Linked DNA regions of Homo sapiens. The protein of the gene in region 1 interacts with the protein of each later gene in a pairwise test. Each region holds a gene or a part of one and is shown on either strand. Other genes may lie near its edges.

The links.
Region 2: the proteins of RYK (region 1) and PTPRR interact in a two-hybrid assay, tested with the Homo sapiens proteins (one study listed by BioGRID and IntAct).

The regions. Positions count from the first base shown.
Region 1 is NC_000003.12:134,156,369-134,164,009, forward strand, and holds the end of RYK (tyrosine-protein kinase RYK isoform 2 precursor), read right to left. Parts: intron 3,006-7,641; coding exon 2,869-3,005; intron 1,897-2,868; coding exon 1,785-1,896; 3' UTR 765-1,784; downstream 1-764. UniProt on the Homo sapiens protein: May be a coreceptor along with FZD8 of Wnt proteins, such as WNT1, WNT3, WNT3A and WNT5A. Involved in neuron differentiation, axon guidance, corpus callosum establishment and neurite outgrowth.
Region 2 is NC_000012.12:70,889,200-70,896,840, reverse strand, and holds part of PTPRR (receptor-type tyrosine-protein phosphatase R isoform 1 precursor), read left to right. Parts: intron 1-3,863; coding exon 3,864-4,162; intron 4,163-7,641. UniProt on the Homo sapiens protein: Sequesters mitogen-activated protein kinases (MAPKs) such as MAPK1, MAPK3 and MAPK14 in the cytoplasm in an inactive form.

The DNA.
Region 1 (7,641 bases):
TTAAAATAGATCATGTACATGTTAATAAACTGTGATTTCTAAACAATGCACTCACTTGAACATGAAATAAGAATGCCCTGAATACTGGAAGGGACGCTTGAGTTGAACCACTCCATGTGGAAAATACACAGTAAGTGCTGTAAATGTTGACTGAATGCCTTCTAAGAATGCAGGTTATGAATGAAAATATAATTTACAAATGGTTCAAAGGGACCTTTTAAAAAACAGTACTCCAGGGACTGGCTTCATATGAGTATTTCATAAAACCAAAGAACTGTTAATAAATGTACACAGAAAATCATGCCCTTGGCTTACTTGTGGAAAACCAGGTACTATGTGAGCTATTTTTCCCGATGTGCTGCTGATTCATAAGGCTTTTTTAAAAACAGCAAAAGCCTCCAACTGCTACACATTCTCCCTTATATACCTCTGAAGATGGGAGTAGTGGCAGGTACCTGCAGGCCTAGCTATTTAGAAAGCCCATTCAACTCTGCTTTAGGCCAACTAAAACTGAGCATAAATACATACATATCCCTTACTTGCTGGTTCTGGAGAAATGTTTCAGTGTTTTAATACTTCCTTATAACATTAATTCCAACTTTTTACTAGAACCTGGAGTCTGAGCCAGCTTAACTGTGTTAGGGCTTTGGAACTTGACTGGAACATCATGAAATAAAACACAAATGTCTGGCTGTTGAATGTTCAAAGACTTACCAGACACAATAACCAATCATTCATTATGAAAAATAATTTCAATACTGTCATAATATAAAACAAATCCTTTAATTTTTCAAGTGTTTAAAAAACAATTTTATACTTAAGCCAGCCTTGAAGATAAGCACAAAATTTACCAGTTTACATTTAAAAAACAAACAAAAAACGACAACAACTCAAGCACCCGCTCTGTGCATAGCACTATTCTAGGTGCAATAAAAGGGAATCTTAACCTTAGAAATATGAGTTCACTTTCTGGAATTGTATTATCTCCTTTTCCAGAGAGTAAAAATAAATAAAATCACCATTGTTTACTACAGATCTGCCCCAAACCACATCTGGTTCACAGAAAGGCTAATTTCTGCCAAATTAAAGATGTAATGAACTCAGTTCCTGCTTTCCCAAAAACACGAAAGCAGAATTCCTTTTCACTGAAAAAAATAAACAGTTTTCCATGCAAGGGCAGTTTGCTTCTAATAAGTATTTTTAAAAAAATTTTTTTTTCCTCTAGCTTTTCTTTAAATTTTCTTCCTCTAATATTGCCTTTTCTTGTACAAGGCAGACCAGGTATCTTTTTATGCTGTTTTTCCTTTACTAAGAAAAGTATTGCATCTTGAAGACAAACCATTTCCCAGAGTAGTGATAAAAAATAACACTAAAAAAACTTTAAAGGTGAGTCACTTACATCACCTTGATGAAGTAAAAAAATAAAAAGCAGTTGGCACTAAGATAGCTAATTCCAAATATCTGTGTCTAAACAATTTTAAAAACTGTTTATTTATTTTGTAAGAATGTACCCCTAGTCCAAAGTAAGTATGTTTTAAAAAATTTTGGCCAAAAAATTTACAAAAACCCTTTCAGTTCAACCTAATAAAAGTGATATCTAGAAAATATGCCACATTATTAAGTCTGTCTTAAAAAGTTCAGATTCTAAAGCATTTCTAAGGCACGGTGTTCTGGAAGACAAATGTGCTTCTGTTGGCGTTGTGTTAGATACAAAGCATCCCTGACAGGCTTCAAGTGAGCCCCGACAGGCACCTTCTTCCTGATGGTGTGGGATTGGAGAGGAGTCAGACGTAGGCCCCCAGGGCTGCATGAAACTCTGTTAGGCACTGTACCAGCTGCTGAAACTTGGGCCTCTCCTCTGGATCTAAGGCCCAGCAACAGGCCATCACAGCAAATCTGCAGAGTGACAAAAATGAAAATTTGGGCTAGTAAGGATACAGTATTCATAACTTTTGCTCAGTTTGATGCCAGTTATGTTGCCTGTCTAAAGGTGGGTATGGAGAGGATGATATATTAAAAACGGATCCATTTTACTATCTGTTGGCAGCTCTAGAAAGAAGCTAAAAGAAATTATTTGGATTATGTGTGAATTTCAATTCTTCATGACAACATATCAAAATATTTCAGCAAATACAGAGATTTCATGTAAAAACCTAAAACACAGTAAAAAAAGAATGTGTGTTTTCCTGTAGTTAAATTAAGAAAAGAACTTGGAGGAAGAGAAAGTTTTATCTAAGTTCTATGAACCCTGGATCTAGAGTAAAATCAGTACAAAAGCTGCCACCTTGTCATGGTGCAGAAACCTTCAGGAGGTTCTGGAACTGAGAATATACTCATCTGTACGATCAATCACCCTGCATAGCCTCCTGTTTATCCCATTCTCATTACATGGCAAGATAAGCTATGTGATAGAAGCAGGAAACAGAAAGCAACTATTTGGCTTACTAGTCCAGATCATCTTCCCTGTATTAGCTGATACTAACTGGCAAGGCAAAATGACAACGAGAGAGGTTTTTTATAACTACTATGTCCTTTATAACTACTTTATAACTATAAAAGTCAGATACTCACTTTATATAGAATAACTGACGTAGCATTCAATTTTCTTAGTACGTCCTCTCAGACTAATTTATAGTGCTTAGATTATGCACTATAAAATAAAATGCAAGACGTTCTAATATCAAATGCATGAAAGAGTGAACGAATCTCCCTGACTTTGTGGTTTTTTATAAGAGTCTAATTTAAATCCAAAGAGTCATTATTCTCAAAAGGGAAGGCTCTGTGTGAATATGGAAACCTGCTCTTTTTCCTTTATTCCAATATAGTAAATGGAATAAAACTCATGCCTTCAAGCTCAAAAAAACTCACAATTCATCAGGACAGTTGATTGGCTGGGCTATTCGGTAACCATCTTTCAGGTATGCGGCCATCTCGAAGGGGTCAATGTCCACGTAGGGAGTCTGGCCCAGAGTCATGAGTTCCCACAGCGTCACTCCAAAGGCCCACTAGTAAAGGAGCAGAAGCACAATGAGGGGACATTTAAAACAACAGTCAGGGGGCTAGCGCCCACAGCCAGCTACAGGACAAAAAATAACAGCTCAACTCATGCTTTGGAAAAGCGAAATGTTATTTACAAAAAAATGTCTATCATACACAGTTAGTTTCCCTTGCTAAGATAAAAAAGAGTGCATCCAATATTAGTATTATAAATTCTAAGTAATTAGATCCATTGGAAGTAATAGTTTACTGTTGATTACAAGCTACGTATTATGAATTATGTCCAAGATTCTTCTAATATGAGAATTTGTAACTTTAAATATTATAGCTAGTCTGCATAATTGAGAAGTGGAAAATGAACAGAATTTTAGTTTAATTAAAGGGAAGAGCATCCTAAGTGAAATACGCAAATGAGGGGAAATATAAGAAGTCATGGATTTTTACTGTATTTAAAGTTTTAAATTAAAGGATTAAAAAAACTTCCAACCTTGCTTGAGTAAGCAATCAGGTTTATTTAAAATCAGCAGGTAAACTACAGAAAGGAACAGGAATAGTAAACAGTGGCAACAGTGTCCATTCATGGTCCGTTCGGGGCTCTCCATTTTGGCCAATTCCTGGCTGTACTTGGCTCCTGGAGAGCGTGCAGGGGGCGGGGGGCAGGCAACGTCTCTACACAGAGCTGCTGCCACATGGCTGGGAAGGACTCAGATCCGGTACATCCACTGATCTGCCGCCAAGTGTGAACCCTGAGGTCAGAACAACTGAACTTGGATGAGGAGGGGGATACCTGTGTACTGTAGTATCAGGTTTATGAGTACCTACAAATTCAAATCATTTTGCATCCTTCAATACATTTAATTTCCTCAATAAACCTGTGAGAATCATTGGTAGCTCAATTTTACAGGTGAGAAAACTGAGGCTCAGAGAAATAGCTTGCCCCAAAATACATATTTTAATGAGTAAAAGAGAAAAAAGTGAAAAAAAGAAAAGGAAAAAAGAGAAATACCAAACGCAAGTCAAATACAAGTCTGTTTGTAAAATCTAAACATGTTGCATTAAATTTTAGGTTATTATTTTTCAATAACAACAAAATCCCAAAATACTTTGTAAAATACACAGATTTTTTTAAAAGCCTTATAATAGTGAACAATAGCTACATTTCCCCCCAGAATCTATGCAAACAAGAAAACAATGAAATGACATATTTTAAAATATTTTAGGGCCAGGCACGGTGGCTCACACCTGTAATCCCAGCACTTTGGGAGGATTATCTGAGGTCAGGAGTTCAAGATCAGCCATGACCAACATAGAGAAACCCCATCTCTACTAAAAATACAAAATTATCTGGGCATGGTGGCGCATGCCTGTAATCCCAGCTACTCGGGAGGCTGAAGCAGGAGAATCGCTTAAACCCGGGAGGCGGAGGTTGCGGTGAGCCGAGATCGCGCCACTGCACTCCAGCCTGGGCAACAAAGCGAGACTCTGTCTCAAAGAAAGAAAAAAAAATTAAAAACTGTCATGGAAAGTTCTATATAGAGCCAAAATATACTTCAACAATGAAGATAAATACAGAGTTTTTCAGACAAATAAAAGCAGAGAGACTATGTTTCCAGCAGACCTGTAAGATGTATGAAAGCAGTTCTTCATGTGGAAAGAAAATATACCACATGGAAATCTGAGTCAACACAAAGAATACAGAGTGCTGAAAATATATTAGTAACAACTGAACATATTCTCTTATGTTAAAATTTCCTTGACAGACTATTTAAAGCAAAAACAGCTAACAATATATCGTGGGGTTTATAATATACAGAGAAGTAAAAGGTATGCCCACAACCAGTTTGAAGACTGGAAGGGGATGAATGGAAACACTATATTAAACATGAAATGATATAATATTTTTGGAAAATAGAAGGTTTACACTATAAAGCCTAGAGTAGGTTTTTTAACCTCAGCACTACTGATATTGTGGGCTGGAGGATTCTTTGCTGTGAGAAGCTGTCCTGTGCATTGTAGGATGTTTAGCATTCTCCCTGGGCTCTACCCACTAGATGATAGTAGCACATCCTCCAAGCTGTGACAACCCAAAATGCCTCCGGACATAGCCAAATGTCCCTTGGCACAGACAAATGTCCTTAGCCAGAGCAAAACTGTCCCAGTTAAGAACCACTGTGTTAGACTGAACAACAACAAAAAATTTAAAATATCAGAAATAAAGGAGGGAACACCATCCTTTAAGACATCAAAAAATATTATGAACAATCCAATTTTATGCCAATAAATTCAGCAACTTAAATGAAATAAACAAATTTCTTAAAATACAAATTACCAAAACAGACACAGGAGTAAACAGAACATCTATATAGCCCTACATCTATTAAAGATACTGAATTCACAATTCAAAACCTTTCCACAAAGAAAACTCAACACTGTTTGGTGAATTCTATCAAACTTGAAAGAAAATATAAATCTGTATTAGTTTTCTAGGGCTACCATAATAACATACCACAAACGAGTAGTTTAAACAACAGAAATTTATTGTCCCACTGCTCTGATAGCTAGAAGTCCAAATCAATGTGTCAGCGTGGCTGTGCTTCCCCGGAAACCTGTAGGGGGAATCTTTCCTTGCCTATTCCCAGCTTCCTGTGGTTGCCGGAAGCCCCTGGTGTGTCTTGGTTTGCAGCTGCAGCCCTGCAGTCCCTGCCTCTATCTTCACGTGACATTTTCTCCTCATGTGTGTGTCTCTTTTCTTAGGGTGGATTAGAGCTCATACTCATTGAGTATGACCTCATCTTAACGTTACATCTGCAATGACCCTATTTCCAAATAAGGTCACATTCTGAGGTACTGGGGGTTAGGGCTTCAACCATTTTTTTTTTTTTTTTGGTGGAGACGCAGGACACAATTCAACCCATTACACACCCAACCCTACGTAAACTTTCAGAACACAGAGGAAGGAATATATCTCATTCACTTTGACAGCAGCATTACCCTAAATACCAAAAACAGGTGGTCAGCCTTTTGGAACCTATTATCTTTTTCATTAACAGTGATCATTAACATGGAGCAAAGTCCAGCCTTGAAGTCTATGCTCTGGGAGGAGGGGGCAGGCGACAGATGGAGAAGCGTGTATAGTTTCAAAATCTCCACAGAGTCTTGGAGGCTACTGAAATTTCCCTTACACCTACTGGGACATTCTATTCTGCTTAAAAATGGAAAAATGATTTCAAATTAATAAAAGTTAAAGGATGGTGCCTGCTCACAACTAGTTATTTGCCTATCTTTAAAACCTTACTGTATATGAAACTTTTTTCTGAGAAGCAACAAGATCTACATGAAATCTTAATACTGACAGTCATTAGTAAATGCAATGCTTTATTTTTAAAATCGTGTCCAATTTCCATAGAGAAGGTAGTTCCCTGCACAGATGGAACAGAGCCCAAAGAAATGAAACTGGTCGGAAGGGTGCTCCCATCCCTTCCTCCAGAGATGAAATGATCCATTCAAACTAGATTTTGGAAGAAGAAACCATGGGAATTGGTGACAAGTGCATCCTGACTCTTTGTACACAGGGAATAACCCCATCCACTGACATTATAACACCTTCTGACTTTAAGGGACTTTGATATTAAAGTTGGTGGTATTTGAGATCTGGAGTTGAATGTAAGTATTACAGCAGCAATGTAGATAAGCTTTTAAAAATTACTCCCTTCCCACTGTTTTGTTCACATTACTGCCCAACATTTACCTAAGGTTTTCATATTACAACTACAACACTAAAAGACGCCATAAAAAAGAACAGTCAAGCCAAAGGGAACAATGCAGTTTCATTTCCTTAAAAACTAACAAAAGTGATTAATTACATGTTGGCAAACCAACCCTTAAAAAAATAATCAAGACAAAATGGCGCAGAGATGATTTGTGGAAAACTTGCTCTCTAAGGTCTTCCGATAACTGAACCATTTAAAATTTAGACAGACTTATTCTATAATTTCCTTCTGTTTGACGTCGGTGGAAAGGGGGCAATAAGAAGGTCATGCTGTTCTTTCCAGAGTTTTACGAAAGATTGTGGCTATCTCCATTTAAAGAACATTTAGATAATTATAATGTTATTCTATTCATCTTATTCCTCTCCCCAGAACATGTTATTTTACAGCTTCTATATATAAGATGTAAAACAGTTTTTCCACTAAAACATATATGAATGTGACTTGTCAAAAAGTATGTAAGTAAAATTCCTTTTTTCTTTTAGTGCAGCATTAACTAAAGATGGAGCTACTGAATTAAGACATTTCCAGTGATTACTTCAGGAACTTACAATGCAAGGCTCACTTCAGTAAACTATAAACTGAAAGGAAAATAATTCCATTCAATTGTAAATTATCTTATCTGACCACAGTGGAAGCATCATCAGGTGGTCCATGGCTAGGCCTTTCTGTTCATATTAGAAACCTAATATCCCTTTCTCACATAAAGACATGGCTGCAGATTACCAAAGTGCAATTAAATGAACCTGGGTTAAGTGTTTTATAAGAAGGAGAAGAATTATCTGGGGTGCTTGCTAAAAAGTCCAGTTCCTCTGTCCTATCTTAATAATTCTGAAGCCTGGATCACATTATTTTATTTAATTAATTATTTATTTGC
Region 2 (7,641 bases), on another chromosome or scaffold:
ACTGGCTAGCCATATGTAGAAAGCTGAAACTGGATCCCTTCCTTACACCTGATACAAAAATTAATTCAAGATGGATTAAAGACTTACATGTTAGACCTAAAACCGTAAAAACCCTAGAAGAAAACCTAGGCAATACCATTCAGGATATGTTATATTTTTATTTTAGTTCAGTTCAAAATATGTTCTAATTTGTCTTGTGACTTTCTCTTTGGCCCATGGATATTTAGAAATGTGTTTTTTTAATTTCCAAATTTTGGAAATATTCTTCTTTTCTTTCTGTTACTGATTCCTAGTTTAATTCCTTCATGGTCAAAGAGTATACCTTGTATAATTTCAGTTTTCAACATGTGTTATTTTATGGCCCAGTATATGATCTGTCTAGATGAATACCCCATAAGAACGTGAAAAGATTGTGTATTCTGGTGTTTTGGGTTGTGTGTTCTATAAACACCTATTAAATCCAGTTGGTTGATGGTGGTGTTCTTTTACAACCTTGCCTTTGCTTCTTTTCTTTCTCCTCAATCTACTTACTATTGAGAGGGAACAGTTAAAATCTTCAATGATAATTGTGAATTTTCCCATTTCTCCTTTCATTTTTGTCAGCTTTGCTCCATGAATTTTAAGCTCATTTTTGATGCATATATATTTAGGAATATTATGTATTCTTATGTACATTGCATCATATGTCCATCATTATGTAATGTCCCTCTTTATCCTTGGGAATTTCTTTGTGCTGAATTGATATTAATATAGTCACTCCAGGTTTCTTTTGATTAGGTTTTCATGATATGTTGCTTTTCACTCTTTCACTTTAAATGTGTCCATATCATTATATTTGAAGTGAGTTTCTTGCGCTTCTACACCTGCATCTGAGTCCAGGGTCAGGTATTGATAGGAGAGAGAGGGAAAAGAGCTATGATTGTTGGCTGCTTTAGAATTACGGCTTCACTAATAGATAACTTGGCTTCTCAGTCTTCACTTTTCCAAAATTTTTACTTGAGTATATTCATAAAGCTGAAGTGAAGGAGGAAATAGGTAGCATTTGAGGATAGAAAATACAAAACCAATTCCAGACATTAGGTCAGTGGTCCTCAAACATCAGAGTTTGAACATAAGAATTCTATTATAAATCCAGATTCCTAGGCTACATCTATAGAGATTATGCTTTGGTAGTTCTAGTCTGGGGTCTAAGAAACTGTATCATCATGTCCCGGGTAGCTCTGATACAGAGAACCTAAGGACAGCACTATGAAATTTTTTTTCTTACCTAATGATTGTGGTAGGACACCTAATATTACACTGCTATCTTAGAACTCATTACTCAGGAACAAGGCAGGACTAAGTTCATTCACACAGACAAGTGGATAAGGTTGGAAAATTTTCATTGTGTTTCAATTGCGCTTCAACTTAGATTTTGTCCCTTTCTCGGTAGGCCAATTTTAGCATGCATTTATTAACTGGACTTTTCTATTTAGATAAAGTGGCTCTGAAAAGACTTGGTGTGATTGATAATATATAAAAAGAAAGATTGAAGATATTTGTGTAATTTACTCAGTTTGTCAGTTATTTCTCCTCTTTTAAGATATCTACTTTCCCCAATCTTCTAAGCTGCTTTTTTCTTTTTATTTACTATTTATAGAGAATCCAGAGTAGAGGAATTGCTAGTTTTTACAGGCTTTGCTTTCCATCAAGCCTTGTGTGACCAACATATACGTCTTACATCTTCAGCAACTCTGTTTCACCCGTATCCCTTCAACTTTCATGTGGGGTTATAAAGATGGGTTATTTTCTTAGCCCAAGTGCTTTATTCCACGATATAATAGTATGAGAATCATCTTCTGTTACCAGTAGCTTTATCTTTTTGGACCACTTGAATTATATTTTATGTGGATCCTGAAATAGTAATGGAAACTAATCATCATGTCTTCAGTTCCGAGCATGCTAAATTGACCATAACTTTTTTAAAACAATCAAGCCACCCATAGTTTGCCAAAGATGATGATTGGACAATGATGACCCTTAAATAATTGTACATTTTATTTCTCCATATTAAATGAGTTCCTCGGATTTGGAAATGAAACTCTCATTAAGAACATATGTAGTATAATGGAATTCAGAACAGGATATCTCAATGTTGTTGTTCTTACCACTGTTTTATCAATGGAAAATGGTGCCAAAATGTTTTAGATGTATATGAACTTTCTGACCACAAGGTGTGTATTTATTATTTTACTAAAAATAATTTACTAAATAATATTGTAGTGTCCTAGAAGAGTTTCTACATTTCTGAAAGGAGAGTAATTTTCTTCTTTCCCTCTGAAAAACTATCTGATATCACTACAATGAAGTGATTCCTTTGGGGTTAAGAAATAAAATAATATACTACTTTCATCCTGGTTTACTTTTCTAATACCACTGATGTAGAGGTGATTCTGTGCTTTGGGAAAGGTATATTGTATGCATAAATGAACGTGGGTCTCTCACCTAAGAGAAAATAGAGAAATTTAAATGCCCAGTAGCATGAGTACTAGATCTGCCATGATAATTCTATTGAATTTGGGCATGTAAATAGCTGAAATTTGCAAGAAAAACAAAATAAAGTACAGACGCTTGCATGATTTGGGAAGTAAAAGATAAAAATAGTAGGAGATTGGAGAAGAATTCTTGTAAAAAGAGGTAAGTAATTTTCTAAGGACAGCACTTGTTACCACAAGCATTTCCAGTGAAAATCTGGGGTACCATTGCTAGGGACTATGTTATAAAACAGATCTCATGTTTGCTTTTCTAACTGGTATTTGACCTAGTAATATTCTTTTTGATTCATATGTATTATCTGTTTCCTCCTGTGGCCAGTAGCAAACAGGAGAAGCCATTATTCAATGCAATGAATATTTATCTAACAGAAGAAATAAAGATGAATGTATTTGTTACTAAATAAATTCAATTGCTCTAACAAAGATACTTAAAATAATAGCAGGTAAAACAATAGAATATTGTTTTTCTCTCTAAAAATCAGAGTGGGAACTGTGAGGTTGGTATGGTAGTTTCACTTTCATCAGGGATCAGAATATTTTGTCTTAGTGCTCTACCATCTTTGACACATGGTTTCTACCTCATGCTCCTACCAGACTCTCTGCATTTCAGCCAGCACAAAAGAGGAAATGTAGAAAGGAAGGCCATATCACATCTCTGCTAACATCTGTTTACTCACATTCCAATAGCTATAACTTGATCAAATGGCAATGCTTAGTTGCAGGGAAGACTGAGAGAAATGTAGTCTCTATCTAGATGGCCATATTACTTACACAAGTAAGGAGACGATGGATATTGTTTGGACTACTGAAAGTTGCTACCACAATAAGTACACTCAGATTTCTTACCTCAGAGAGCTTAAATACTCTGTAAGCGTGAAGAAAACTGTTCATTGTAATACAAGCAATAAGTATGAAATAAGAATTGTAGGAAATGCTTATATTTAAGGAAAGCTTAAATATGATAAAAATATTTATAATTTCAGCAGCAGATAGGACATCCAGGAATAGAAGCCCAAGTAGGTATTGAAACTATGGGTGTAGATAAAGGAGGAAATTTCTTAGTAAAAGTGGCATCAGAATATCTGAAAAATAGAACTTTTTCAAAGTACGCCCACTTTTATCCACCTAAAGTCTTTGAGAGGCCTTCATACCACCAGGTGTATACTATTTGTTGAGGATCATGAAGCAGACAAAGAAATATGGAGACTAACCTAAATCCTTCACAAGTCTTAAAGCCTCTCAAGAAAGGGTAATCCTCTTCATCAGATATATCTACCTCTCTTACTGAATAGGGTCTTTGATATTGTTTCTGCTTCTTCCCTCTTTCAGGGTGCTTTTCAGGAAACAATGATCATTTTTTGGCAATTAATCAGAAGAAGAGTGGGAAGCCGGTATTCATTTATAAGCATTCACAAGACATTGAGAAGAGCCTGGATATAGCCCCACAAAAAATCTACAGACATAGCTACCATTCCTCTTCCGAAGCTCAAGTAAGCAAACGCCACCAGATTGTCAATTCAGCATTTCCTAGACCCGCATATGACCCGTCTCTCAATCTGCTGGCCATGGATGGTCAAGATCTTGAAGTGGAAAATCTCCCAATCCCAGCAGCAAATGTAATTGTGGTGGTAAGTAGTATGTTAAACTGATGCTGAGGCTGATGTTGATTCTTTCCTGTCATTGATGCTTGAAAAAAGAAAAACACTGATTGTGAATAGTTATCAATGAATCCCAACGGGTATGTACCACAGCACTTATTCTGTGGTACTTCTAATTTCTTACTTGACTGTTGTCTGTTTTCTTCCTCTTACGAAATCAGAAAACTTGTCTGTATCCTCCGCTCATAGCAGAATGCATGGTACATGGTAGATGCTTAATAAATATTTGAATAAAAGATTACTTTAGGAAGGCCTTACAATTATAGTTGATTATATCTTGTACTGAGCCTCCTACCTTCTGTGAGAATCTGTTTTAAGCAGATAGGCCTTAGTCTCAGCCTGTGTAAATAAATAATACTTATTGAAGATCCTCTGGTCACTTGACTCAAATTACAATAAATAAGACAACTGAAAGGGGAGGTGTGGTAGAGGGAGAGTAGTTTTCTGTCACTGGAGCAAATAAAATGAGTTGGGAGTAATTGATAGATAACATTTTTGATATTACTGAATAATAACCATTCTTTATTAATAAAAGTGATACAATGATCCCATTGCTTATGTTCTTAAAGTTCCCTTGCTTGTATAACCCAGGTCAGAGGTTTCCAAATTGTGGAGGTTATCATAGTTTAAATACATACTGAGGTTGACACCCTATTTGAACTACAGTCACTCTCTGGTTTAACATCATTATAGAAGGATCCACATTGAAACTACAAATCAGTAGTTAAATGGTTGTTATTGCATCTCTGCTCCAAAATATAATCAAATGAGTTGATTTGTGTGGCCAAGATAATTCAATGAAACCATGTTTGCATTTTGGCAACTCCTCTATGCACCAAATGTAATTAAATCTAACAAGCTTCTTTTTTTTCTTTATTTTTTTAACCTACTACATATAGTATACTTTACTTAATATTGAGAATCAAAGTTCCATTCGTCAATGTTTTCAGCTAGCATACACTCAGTATTTATTATGATCTAGTTTCCCCTTGGGATATCTGGAAACAGAGACAAATGAAATACAGTCTCTTGTTTTGCTTGGAAAATGTCCAGAGGGAAATATCAATAATTCAATAAAAATCATAAGCTAAGAACACAAGATGAACTCTTGTTAAGAGAAAATATGTGGGTCACTTGGCATCCTGAAATACTTGAACAAGTTTTCTGCATTTACATGAGTAGCAGATGTTCTGAAGGTGAAAGTCATGTACTCTGTCTATTCAGTGAAGATAAATGATGTTAATGATGTCTCTGTATCTGGAGATGCTCCTGTTAATGCTAGGGCTCATGGGAGATATTTCCTTAGTGACCATCATATACCCATAGTCATCAACTCTTAAAGTCACTGTGAATTACAGTTCAAGAGGCTTGTTCTATCTTGTAATGTCATGTACTGTCTAGTTAATTTAATATCATGGACAATAAAAGGCACCAATGAGGAATTCTGGCAGGTCATTTCACTTTCAGCTTATTTGTGGTTTGGAGATTGATGAAGAAGCTGTGCTTTTCCTTTGGGGTGATGATTACATAGAGGCAATAGGCAATTTTGCTGCATTAGCTTTCCCTAGCCTCTGACCATGCTGTGGCTTTGGTAGCTGGCAACACCAATTGCCAGTCCTAATGTTTCCTGCAATCCACTTAGATTACTTATGTGCATGATGATTTAGCAGCAAAACTGGGGAGGCAGGGTTATTTTTTAAATAAATCAATAATGTTTAGCTTCCTCAAAAAGCAAAGGGGTGATGCAATTAAATGTCAGCTGATTTGAAGACCCATTCCATACAGAAAATGGATGTATGGATGGGGCATACAGGAAGCAAGGGATATATTCTGGGGCAGCATAATGACTTTAATGGAATAATTGATGTGTGTTTGTGCTTATCATATGTACATGAGTATAAAACATATACATCAATGCAGACCTTCTTGTTTGAGGGATATTGCAGTGGTACTAAGAATTATTTTGAGACTTAATTTATACTCAAATAGACCATGTTCTGACTATCAGTGTCTTGAACTGGAGAAATTATAGGCATTTTTTTTCCAGCCAGGGTAAAAAGCTACACTCAACCTCTAAACTTTATATGTAACTTCTAAGACTTCCTAGCTCAGAAGGAAGGATCAAGCATTTTTCCTCCAATACTTTTTTCTTTCTTGTTTCAACTATCATTGGCAATGAGTTTTAGAATGCTACCTTTAAAAAGGGCATGAAAGTTGTGTCTCTCCTCCCTTCCTGATTCCCAATTGCCACCGCAAAGCATTTCATAAGAGCATTTATCCACAAATGAATTTTTTCCCTCTTTCTTCTTTTTATTAGTAATCAGGAAAATTTATAGTTTATTTGTTACAAGGAGAGTACAACACAATTAGAATGTTTATCCCAAATAATGCTAACTATGTTCCGGAACTCAATTAAGAAGCTGTTATTAGGATTTCTGTGCAAGTACAATGTAGAGAAGATATTGAATGCCTCAAGGTCAGTACTATGGTAAGAGGAAAAAAATACCGCTTTAGATGAAAGTATGCTGTAAAATCCATAGCTCTTGTCACTGGATCCTCAGGATATTTGTCAAGACACAAGGCCACAACACCAGGAAGGAGGGAACCCAGAGGTGCAAGTGAAAATGGTGGAATGGTAGCAACTACAGGCCATTTCAGTTCAGCATAGGCTGCTGAGTGAAGAATGTTCTAGCCTGGACAGAAATCTGAGCAAACTGAGGATTAGTAAGGCTTGGGAATATAAGGGGTGGTTTTTGACATCAGTGAAACGGCATGGAAATGGGAAGATTATGATTTACTCTGTGAGATGGACTCATGGGTAAGAAAAATAAAGGAAAGGAGAAGATGGAGGAGAAGAAACAGGAAGAAGAGCAGCAGGAGAAGGAAAGGAGGCAAGGAAAGAAGGGAAAAAGAAGCGGGGGGAGAAGGGAGGAGAGGATACAGAGGCAGTTTTTAGGGAAGCAGGAAGCATTCTGTGAGCACATAGGAAGATGATGAGTTTCCAGGGGCTTGCGATCCTCTCCTTGAGATCCTAGAATCCTAAAATTTCTTGTCTTGCTCACCACTCACCCAGATCAACATATAGACAGACATTCTATTGTTTCTGTGACACAGAAAATTCTTTGCAAATACTTTTTGTCAGGTATTTGACTTAGAAAGCTATTAAATCCAAAAACGTGTGATAGCTATGGGTTTTAATTACATTCTAAACTCGGGTTTATGGCATGCCTCAGCTTTGTTCTGCTGTTGACTACCTTTTGGATTCATCTTATAAGTAAAGTGATAATCTCTAGACATTATGTGAAGGGCTTTGAAAGTCCGGCTTTCTCATTGCTTTGCCACTGTAAAGAAATTCTGTAGCATTTACTGTGTGATGTGGATAAATAACTGTTGGATACTTTTTCAATAGACAAATTGGTTTAATTATAATTTTATATTTGTGTAGTGGA